3 linked regions of the Homo sapiens genome follow. The protein of the gene in region 3 interacts with the protein of the main gene of each other region in a biochemical or structural test. Each region holds a gene or a part of one and is shown on either strand. Other genes may lie near its edges.

Region 1 (3,500 bases), on a different chromosome or scaffold from region 3:
ACAAAGCCTTGCCTAGCACCAGCACAATGGTCTCTGGACGTACACATTTACATGGGTTGTGGGGGAAGGGAGAGAACAGAGAAGGCTGGGTGAAATCATAACAAATTATAAAATCGTAAATAACTTCAAGTGCCATTTTCAGTTGTTATTCCAACATCTGTTTATTAAAAAATATAACATACTTCAAAAAATTTATTTTTATAAAAAACACATTTCTTGACTACTCTATACTGAAAAATAAACAAAGCTGAATATCAAATATATGCCCCAAATATAAGGCAAAGATCTCCCCCCAAACCCCAGATGGTACATCTTATAATTAAATCTTTACAAAGCTCTGCATTATAGAGCTCTGTATTAATTATCTTGACAAATAAATGTTTGCGTAAGACACATACACCCGAAAACTTCAATCAATGTCATTTTTAAAGGTTTATAAGGTCTAATGAAGGAACCAGTGAGACAGAAGATGACGTCATGATGTGGAAAAAATGTCATCAGATTAAAAAAAAGTGGTTCTAGTGATGATGAATGACAGATACTAACATCAAAGTTGCATATGAAAAGTGTAATGAAACTTTCATGAAGTAGGAAGGGGGAAAATACTATTTCTAATACTTTATATGATATGCAATTATAGGTATGTATAATTATATGTATGTATAATTAAACTAAAATTGAATATTAGAAATAAAACATTTGGCTATTTCATGACTTCCCTAAAAGCTCATATATTCAAGCTGTCTACGAAATATTTTGAATCTTCTCATGGGCAAAATGGAGAACTGTTTATATACACAGTATATGTAATTTAAGTTTTATCTTTGAAAGAAACTAAGTTATTTGTGACTAACACACCTCTTGAACTGCTACTAACAGCGTTCCTTTCTTTCCTATTTGTCTGTATGATTGGTTCAAAACAATCACTGTACTAGTTTCTTCCAGTAAAGAGTTCCAAAAATAATTTTCATAGAGTAAATTTTAAGAAACTGTTTAACACATATGCAGCTGCTACTTTCAAATTATGTTAATTACTTGAAACAGTTACTTTCAACTGTCATATGCAGGTGTTAAAAATAGTTTCAGTTAAGTTCTGAGTTATGCAAATTATTCCATAAAAATTAGACTGCATTTCTGGAGAAGTGCCATCTGGCAGGAACTGATAAGAAAAGAGCTTCAGGAACTAAAATGAACAATTACTTTGAAATGTCCCTTCTTACTTACCATAGTCAATGAAGAAGATATAGACATGGATTAATAATGAAATCCAGAGGTATTTGTTCATGAGTATACAAATACCTTAAGAAGGCTTTAAATATCTGAGCCATGCTACTAAGACATCAAGAAACTATGATACTCTCAGTAGCGCTGTCCAATAGAACTTTCTGCAATCATGGAAATGTTCCATATCTCCTCTGTTCAAAATGGTACATACTAGCCACAGTAGCTAATAAGCACTTGAAATGTGGCTACTGGGGCTAAAAAAGTCAATTTCGTTTTTGTTTTTTAAGTTCATGTAGATGTGACTAGTAGTTAGCATTTTGGACAGTACAGCTCCACAATATCTATGATTCACATTAGGAGCTTACTAAACATGGAAGGGCTACTGGAATCTGGGCCTAACAATTTTATCTGAAGACAGTTCTAAATCAAGGGTTTAAAAATAAAAGGTCTTCATCCTATTCCTTATCAATATAGCTGGAGAAACAATCTACTTTATAAAAGAAATCAGCATAAAAAGAACTTAAGTACCATAGCATATGGCCTTTAATTTGGTGCTGTTTTCTAATCCTAGCAGACAACATGAGTAACGACAGATACACAGAACACAGACACGAAACAGTAGGAAATCAAGTGCCTAGTCCATGAATTAACTATTTGTAGCACACATAAAAATAGTGTTTTATGGCTTTTGAGTAGGCAAAGATAAACTAGTCACCAGACTGGCTGTCACACTTTCACTCCAGGTTTCTCAAAGGGGATTAAAAAAAAAAAAAAGAAATTTTAAATGCGGAAAAATGTAAACATATACACAACAGACAGAAAAGATTCTGACATACCCGTAACTCAATCATTATTAATAAACGATCAAACTTGTTTCATCTATATCCCTCTTCACTTTCCTTCACCTGGTATTATTTTGAAGTAAAATCCCACATAGGATTTCATATATGAGAATTAAAAAAAAAAAAAAAACTCCCAGAAAAAAGGGAAATGAAAGTACTTGATTAATTTATCCGAGGGAAGAGGTGTTCCAGGAAAAAGAAGTGATGTGCTGGGATTACAAAACTAGAGACTATCAGTGTGCATGAAGCATAAGGAGTAAGCAGAGAAAGAGGTCCCCGAGAAAAGATGGTGGCGATGGGAGAAACTCTCAGGGCACAGTTGAGCAGCATTACTCTAGTTTAAAGTAATAGGGAGCCAATACAGGTTTCAGAAGGGAGAGGGTAAAGAAAACGACTTTTGTGATAGCATGGAACCCGACTTCAGAAGCACTGAGGGTAAAACTAGGAAGGAGGATTTTGCAGTGCTCCAGCAGTTTACTTATTTGTTCAAATAAAACAAACAAATATCCTTTCCACATGCTAAAAAGGGAATGCTCTACCCATTTCAAGAGAGGCTTTGCTGGTGAATATTTAAATATATTTTACTTTTTTTTCCAATACTGAATTTTGCTTTAGGACTTACACACAGAACTGTTAGTTGTAATGTGACTAATCCTTTTTGGCTCACTTGTGAAATAATTTGCTAAGAATATCAGTAAGATAAAACAAATATTACATTTAAAAATTAGTTTAAATTTTAATTTACATTACCACTAACATAATTTTAAGACAAGCCATTAACATATCAAATGTAAAAAATCTAAGCTAAAATACTGACTGAAGGTTTTTTTTTTTTTTTTTTCAAGAAATGCTTAAGGATTTTAGGCTTTGTGGAAAGAGGGTTGGTGGGAGAATGATGGGGTAAGAGTTGAGGTAAGAAGAATGGAGGAAGGGCAAACATGTAAGAAAATACTTAATTTTAGAAAAATTTTTCAAAAAAAAAAATGACAAGACATTTTTTAACACTACAAAATCCCAGCTTACTTTTTTGGTTTTCTGGAAGTAGAGTTCAGGAAAAGCATGAAGCCAGTAAGCCAGCTGTGATATGTAGAAAAACTTCATTTGAAATCTGTACAACACAAGAAAATGAAGAGTACCTTTTAAAGCATAATTTTTTTAAAAAAAAGTAAACAAATACTGGAAATCAGGATATACTAAGTAACTACCTTTGTGTCATCATTCCATACAATATCTGTGCACCTTTAAACAACTCTTCAACAACCTCTTTCCCCATCTCCCTGTGACAGTCCCACCATTGGACAAGACCCCTGGATTAAACAGCAGGCAAAGATACTATCTGCAGAAAGCTATTGACATGTAAGCCAGTTGGGAGGAGTCAGAGCCCCTATTAGTTCATTAATACTGACTAGTATGTCATGTTAGCTACTGAAAACA
Region 2 (3,500 bases), on a different chromosome or scaffold from region 3:
GAATTAACCTTTCCAGAGCTCTGCGTGAGGCAGTGTGTTGGCCACTTGACAAATCTTCTCATTGAGTCCTCTCTCAGAATCCTAAATTCTGGGAGGTAGAATGTACGATCTCCATTTTACAAGTGAAATACATGGCTTAGGAGAGGTTAAGGAACGTATCAACTGTAACTGGTAACCAGTGGGCTAGAATTTGAACTCTGATCTTACCCTGAAGTTTGTGTTCTTTCTGCCTCTCCTCCTGGGTGCTTACCACTCAGTGGTAGGCACTCGAAGCATTTTAGCTGCATAAATAAGATAGGCACTTAATTAGCTGGCCTAGGATATCGTAAAGGTCTTTCCCAGCTCTAGCAGTGTGTGACTGACTCCACTCTGGGGAAATAGAGCTTCTTCACTTAAGCCTCACAGGAGGAGGAACATGTCAGGGAAGGGAAGAAGGGAAGGAGGGGCGGTTGTAAGGACACCTATGCTTCCATCATTAGCCCATCTTAACAGTACATAGGAAATAGCCTGAACTAGATACACAAATGGAATGTACCAATCAACAAAGAGATTACATCAAAAAGAAACTGGGAATAACAATTTTTACCATTTATTGAATAATAATTATATGCTAGGTTCTGTGCTAAGAATGTTATATGTACTACCTTATTGAATTCTTACAACTATTATTGTTCCATATTACAAAGGAGGAAACCAAAGTCTGGAGTGGTCAAGTAACTTGCCCAAGCCCATATAGCTGGTAAATGCTGGTGTTATAATACCAACCCAAGCCTACTGGCTCTTGACCACTTTGTTTCTACTGTGTCCATTATCATGAAACCCAGTTTTCTTCCAGCTCTCCTCTAGAGTAGCCCAGACAAAAAAAGAATGGTTCCTGAGATAGAGTACAGTGAGAATGGGGCTATGAGGACCCATTGTTCTGAAATAGTCATGAGCAAATCTTCACCCTGGTAAAGAGAATCTGCAGAAGCTGCTGTTCACACTTAAGGCACAGTGTTAAATGGGAGGTTCACAGTATAGACTCTGAACAAACACTGAACGTCTTTGAGCTTCAATCTTCTCACCCATACAATGGGGTTAAGAATATCTGACATAGTTGGTATAAAGATGATGCAAGACAACATATGTAAAAATGCTTCCTTATAAATTGAAAAACTTATATAAATGAAAGGTATCATTATTTCAGGAACTCTTTGTTTTGAGAGCCTTAGCTCTCTGTTTTGTTTTTTTCAGACAGAGTCTCGCTCTGTTGCCCAGGCTGGAGTGCAGTGGCATGATCTCAGCTCACTGCAACCTCTGCTCCCAGGTTCAAGCTATTCTCATGCCTCAGCCTCCTGAGTAGCTGGGATTACAGGTGTGTGCCATCATGCCTGGCTAATTTTTGAATTTTTAGTACAGATGCAGTTTCACCATGTTGGCCAGGCTGGTCTCGAATTCCTGACCTCAACTGATCCACTCACCTCGGCCTCCCAAAGTGCTGGGATTACAGGCGTGAGCCACCGCACCTGGCCCTTAGCTCTCTTTAATGAATGCAAACTTAACATGGGATTTAAAAGCATATTTTCCAACGTACTTTCAATAAATAAAACTACTGCTATTGCCATTTAGCCCATTCTCTTTCCTCCAAGTAAAAAAGGAGTCATGCTTTCTCTTGTGGGATTAGGTCATCAAAAAACTGACACAAAGAGATGATGAAGCCCCAAGTACATACCTATGCTGGGTAGAAGTTCTGGATGGGATCCCACCTTCTCCTCCACTAGGCCACCCGCAAGTGACTCAGATGCTATGCCACCATGATTGCTTTTTGTGGTCGGTACGGCGGAGATGAGCTCGGAGGGTACCAGAGTGGTTACTATCGAGCGTACACTGGTGGGGAGAGCACCGCCAGGTAAGCTGGGTCCTGCTGAGGCAGTGCCCGGGCCCACAGGGCTAGAGGTCATTTTTAGCAGAGTGGGTGCTGGGGGCGTTGGGGTTTTACTGTCCAGCTCTGTGGATAACTGCTCTGTTCCCATGAGCCCCGGAGCTGTGGTGTCTAGCCCTTGGCCTTCAGTCTCTCCATCTGCACCATATTGTTCTTCCCCTTTCTCAAGAGAGCCTGTAACTTTCTTACATGCCTTGGTCAACAAAATTTGGCCAATTTTGTCCACTTTTCCTTTGCCCTTACTAGACGAGACTGGGCTTCGCCGGTTGCCAGAGGACCCTGGACTATTGGTCAAAAGGGGAGAAACCATTGTGGTTGACTGTGAAGAGGGAAGAGTGTTCTGATCTGCTGAGGTGTTCACCTGAGGGCTAGCCTCATCTGGATTCAATTCTTTCACTTGCTGCACAGGGGGATGAGAAGGGACAACTGGAGAAGACGTACAAGGAGGGGAAGGAAGCTGAACAGGGGTGGCTCGTGAGCTAAGGACCAAAGGTCGACCTGTCTGGATGTTTGGAGCAGGACTACTGGAGAGGGCATTAGGCGGTACAGGAGCAGAAGAAAATTTTATGTTCTGAGGTATGTGTAAAGGGCCAACAACTGCAACAGAGGGAGGCATCAGGCCAGAGTTGGTTGTCAGTGGGGCTGCAGGAATTGTGCTTGGCTGTGATCCTTTCATAACCTGAATTATTGAGGATGAATTGATAAAGACAGGTGTAATGAACTGAGGCCGGGCATTAGACTGAGCAGCTGACTGTCCCTCAGAAACCATAACCTTGCTACCCGCATTGGGCATTGTGACAACTGTTGACATCAATGCAGACTGCAAGTGAGTTGGCAAAGCTGCTGATGTGTTAGCTGAAGTTGTGATGGGATTGGAAGTGACAAATACAGTTATTTGATTTGGGGGCAAGGGAGTGGAAATGGAGGAAGAGCTAACAGGTCTTGACATTACTGGAGGGATGCTTGGTGCAACGTTAGAACTGACCTCACTCAATTCGGGATGCACAAGGGATGAACACAGCTCATTACTGTGAGGTAAGTTTAGGGAATTAGAAGGTTCTTTAGAAGAAGACAGATCCTGCAGTGTGGGAATGACAGATGCTTTTTTGAGGTCCTCCCCAGAAACTACTGGAGGTGTTACTTCCAGATCTGTAAGCCCAGGGGGTTTAATTGTCACATTGGGAGCTCCAGAGTTGTCAAGAAGTTGACTTAACGATGTTGGTGCTTCCCTCATAGCAGGAGACACCAAATTTTTGTTCTCTTCGACACTGGGAAGTTTGTTAGGATCCGAAGGCTGCCCATCCTTTTTGGACTGATCTTCAGGGACAACCATTTTAACTTCTTGGGCAGGGACTGCTTTTAGTTCAATGTTTACCTGTTCCTTCCTACTCTGGGAATTCTGGCAATCACTGTCCTGAGGCACATTCAAGCTCTCCTTGTTATCCTCAACAACACCCCCAACTGCAGCCACAGACACAGTAGAATTCTGAGGATTCAGCCCACTGTTGTTAGGAAAGCTCCCAGGTACAGGGGGATTGGCCAGAGGAGTGGGACTGACCAATACATTTCTCGGCAACTC
Region 3 (3,500 bases):
AGTTTTAGTAACCCTTCCTTCCACCGCTATTGCCAAAAATGCTATATAGTACATGCATTAGAATGTGTTAAAGCAGATCGGGCATGGTGGCTCACGCCTGTAATCCCAGCGCTTTGGGAAGCTGAGGTGGGCAGATCGCCTGAGGTCAGGAGTTCAAGACCAGCCTGGCCAACATGGTGAAACCACTTCTCTACTAAAAATAGAAAAATTAGCCTGGCATGGTGGTGGACACCTGTGATCCCAACTACTTGAGAGGCTGAGGCAGCAGGATCACTTGAATCCGGTAGGCGGAGGTTGCAGTGAGCCAAGATTGCACCTCTGCACTCCAGCCTGAGCAACAGAGAGAGACTCCATCTCAGAAAAAAAACAAAAAACAAAACAAAACAAAACAAAAAAAAACAAAAGAGTGAGTTAAAGCATGTGAAAATAAACTTGGCACATTTCTAAGAATTTTATCACCTGTCCAGAAAGCTCCAGATATAATTGGTCACTATAGGTACAAAAAACAGCAGGACAACTTAAGATTATAACCTGAAAATGGAATTTTTAATGGAGAAAAATCTGTGTCGACTTATACACATAGTGGCCACATACCTACGGGATACAGTCCCCTATTAAAGCGCTGGCCTGTAAATGCTGCTGCACCACAGATTAAAAATGAGTCACAGGACCCTGAATCCTTGGACCCAACTCTCTCCTTCTCTGGTTCTTGACCCAGTGAAGGAGCTGATGATGCTATCATCCTCTGCCCTGCAAGTGTGAGATTTTAATTGCAGCACCCAGGACTTTGTTCCCACTCACTAAGCACCTTACTCAAACAAGTCAGAGAAGAAACACAATGTATTTTTTCTCACCTGTCCAGAACAAGATCTGGAGCAAAGATGAGCTTGCCGGGGTGGTCAATTGAGCGCCACATCAGCCCCATCATTAACACCTCCATCCAACAGCTCTCCAAGAGCCGCACTTGGTCGAACAGGCTGAGCTCCACAAAGCCTGGGGAAAGCAAGAGGCGGTGAGACACCCCCACCCCTCCTCCTCAGCTCCCTGTGTGTGTAGAGACAGAATGGCAAGTGTTAAAACACTAAGAAAACACAAACCATTAGGGAGTTGATATTTTATAGATGTGATTAACTGCTCATTAAAGGAAGAAAACTTTGAAGTTAAGCTGCGCAACTTAGTTTCCAGTCTTGGACCCCTTCTAGAGACAAATATACTTCATTTAGAGTTTGTCAAGCACTACGACCTCGGCTCAGAACTGATCTTTGTTAGCTGTGTCCTGATAATTCCTCTGCACTACTGAGAATGTTGATGCTTGGCTGCCAGTCAGAAGACCTGCCTGTCTGACCCAATCCTTGACTGGGATCAGAAGGGGTGGGGGATGGGGTAGGTGGGGGATGGGGTAGGTGGAGGTTGGGGTTGGAGGCTTGCAGAGAGCAGTGCCAGCCCTCACAGAAAACCAAGGCCTCAACTGCAAGGATTTCTCTGATTGATTAAAATTTCCTATCCAGTGTTAAGATCCTTCTTCTGGGTAGAAGCACTGTTTCTGGGTGATTCTATCCTAAACAGCAAATATAGCCAAGCACACCTGTAATCCCAGCACTTTGGGAGGTCAAGGTGGGTGGATTGCCTGCACCCAGGAGTTTGAGACCAGCCTGGCCAACATGGAGAAACCCCATCTCTACAGAAAATTATCTGGTCATGGTGGCAGGTGCCTGTAGTCCCAGATACTCTGGAGGCTGAAGTGGGATGATCGCCTGAGCCCAGGAGGTCGAGGCTGTAGTGAGCTGAGATCACGCCACTGCACTCCAGCCTGGGCAACAGAGCGAGACCCTGTCTCAAAAATAAATAAATAAATAAATAAATAAAGAGCAAATATAATAACGAAGCAGGTCCTGACAACCTAATAACCCATGTTGGTCACAGTACTGTTTGCAAACAGGTAATCTCTGGGGAGGGAAGCACTTCAAAAGCAAAGCAGAGAACACCGGGGCTTCCTTCACAAGCCATGATAAAAAGAGAGGGCCATGTAATATAAATATGATAACAAAAGACACCGCCTTGGAGTGAAATGGACTCTGGTTCGAACCCCAGCTCAGCCTCTTTCTAGCTGTTCACTTAATCTCCCATTAAGTCTTTGTTTTTCTTATAGGAAAATGGGGGTAACAATGCCTATCTCTGAGAATGTCTTATAGGCAGGATCTCTTATCATTCTTGTTTTACAGATGAGGAAACTACAGCAGAGAGAACACACATGGTTCAAGTCTTTGAACAATTATAACGCAAATCTGCCTCAAGGAGAATGTAATGGTGTTATGAATGTAAAGATGGATAAATACTTTCTAAATCCACATGCTTTGCTCAGTTTAGGTTCCTAATGTGTATATACCTTCCCAGTCTCACCCATAGTGATTGACAATAAGCCTACCCAAGAGAGATCACGGTTCTTAATCTTGTAGATATTCAACAAGATCAAGGCTAGATGATATTTTAATATATATTTTTTGGTTTGGACAATGACTATGCCAGCTAAGAGAGGAGAAAAAAAATCACGCCTTCAGATTATGTCTACGTTTCCTGAAAACTTTTCAAAACACCAGGCTTGAATAAGGAATAATGCAGTTTAAGAGTTCAGATTTCTTATGGCACAAAGAAGGTGCACAGCTTTCAGCAATAATTAATTTCACCACTGCTCTCCATGTGTGGTCCTGCAAAATCGTGTTTGGAATACATTTAAAGCAAAAACTAGAGGAAAGTGCATCAGTATTGCCTCCCCTGGGAAAAAGCAGAGAAAATAAAATAATTCTGGCAAAGGTGAAGATGCTAGACAAAACAAAATACAACTAGAAACCAAAAATCCTCAGGAAGCTCAGAAGAAATGGGCCCAGGCCAACAAAAGTCCCCAAATGATACTGTCACCATAGGCCTCAGTTCCCCAGGCTCTTTACCCAAAACTTCTCTTCCCCCAGCTTCTCACCCCTCCTCATCTTTACAGCTTGCCCAGTGCAGTCGCTGCCCTCCAGGCCATGGGAATGCCCCCAGTGGCTCAGAACTTATAAGAGACTTCATTTCTTCAAGGACTGTAAAGAACAGCATGGAGAAGCTGTCACAGGGGGATCGTGGGGTGTTGCCACTCTAGGTTAGAATCCTAGATTCACTCCTCCACAGAAACACCAAGTCAAATGATAATTAGCTGGTAATTTTAGCATCATACAGCACTTCAGATATATATTACAAATGGGCTTGAGAGAAGTGATCACTTTGGAGGATGGAAAACGCAGGTTCCAAGTGACAACTCATGAGTAACTAAGCTCATTTTTAACTTGATGGCATTCCAGGTTTATGGGCCCATTGATGATTCGTGTAACTTCAACCACTGATTTACTCTGTTTGTCCATACATATTCATTTATGTACATAATATTGATTCTCTACTGGAACAATAATTTACAAAATTCTATTTAGCATCTGACAAACCTTTCACTTTCAAACTAGTCATACTGT

The links. The genes of interacting proteins can lie anywhere in the genome.
Region 1: the proteins of ESR2 (region 3) and TRAM1 form a complex in vitro, tested with the Homo sapiens proteins (one study listed by BioGRID).
Region 2: the proteins of ESR2 (region 3) and NCOA6 form a complex in vitro, tested with the Homo sapiens proteins (one study listed by BioGRID).

The regions. Positions count from the first base shown.
Region 1 is NC_000008.11:70,591,417-70,594,916, forward strand, and holds part of TRAM1 (translocating chain-associated membrane protein 1), read right to left. Parts: intron 3,175-3,500; coding exon 3,090-3,174; intron 1-3,089. UniProt on the Homo sapiens protein: Involved in the translocation of nascent protein chains into or through the endoplasmic reticulum (ER) membrane by facilitating the proper chain positioning at the SEC61 channel.
Region 2 is NC_000020.11:34,738,652-34,742,151, forward strand, and holds part of NCOA6 (nuclear receptor coactivator 6), read right to left. Parts: coding exon 1,712-3,500; intron 282-1,711; coding exon of another isoform or gene 208-281; intron 1-207. UniProt on the Homo sapiens protein: Nuclear receptor coactivator that directly binds nuclear receptors and stimulates the transcriptional activities in a hormone-dependent fashion. Coactivates expression in an agonist- and AF2-dependent manner.
Region 3 is NC_000014.9:64,256,372-64,259,871, forward strand, and holds part of ESR2 (estrogen receptor beta), read right to left. Parts: intron 1,045-3,500; exon of another isoform or gene 994-1,044; coding exon 855-993; intron 1-854.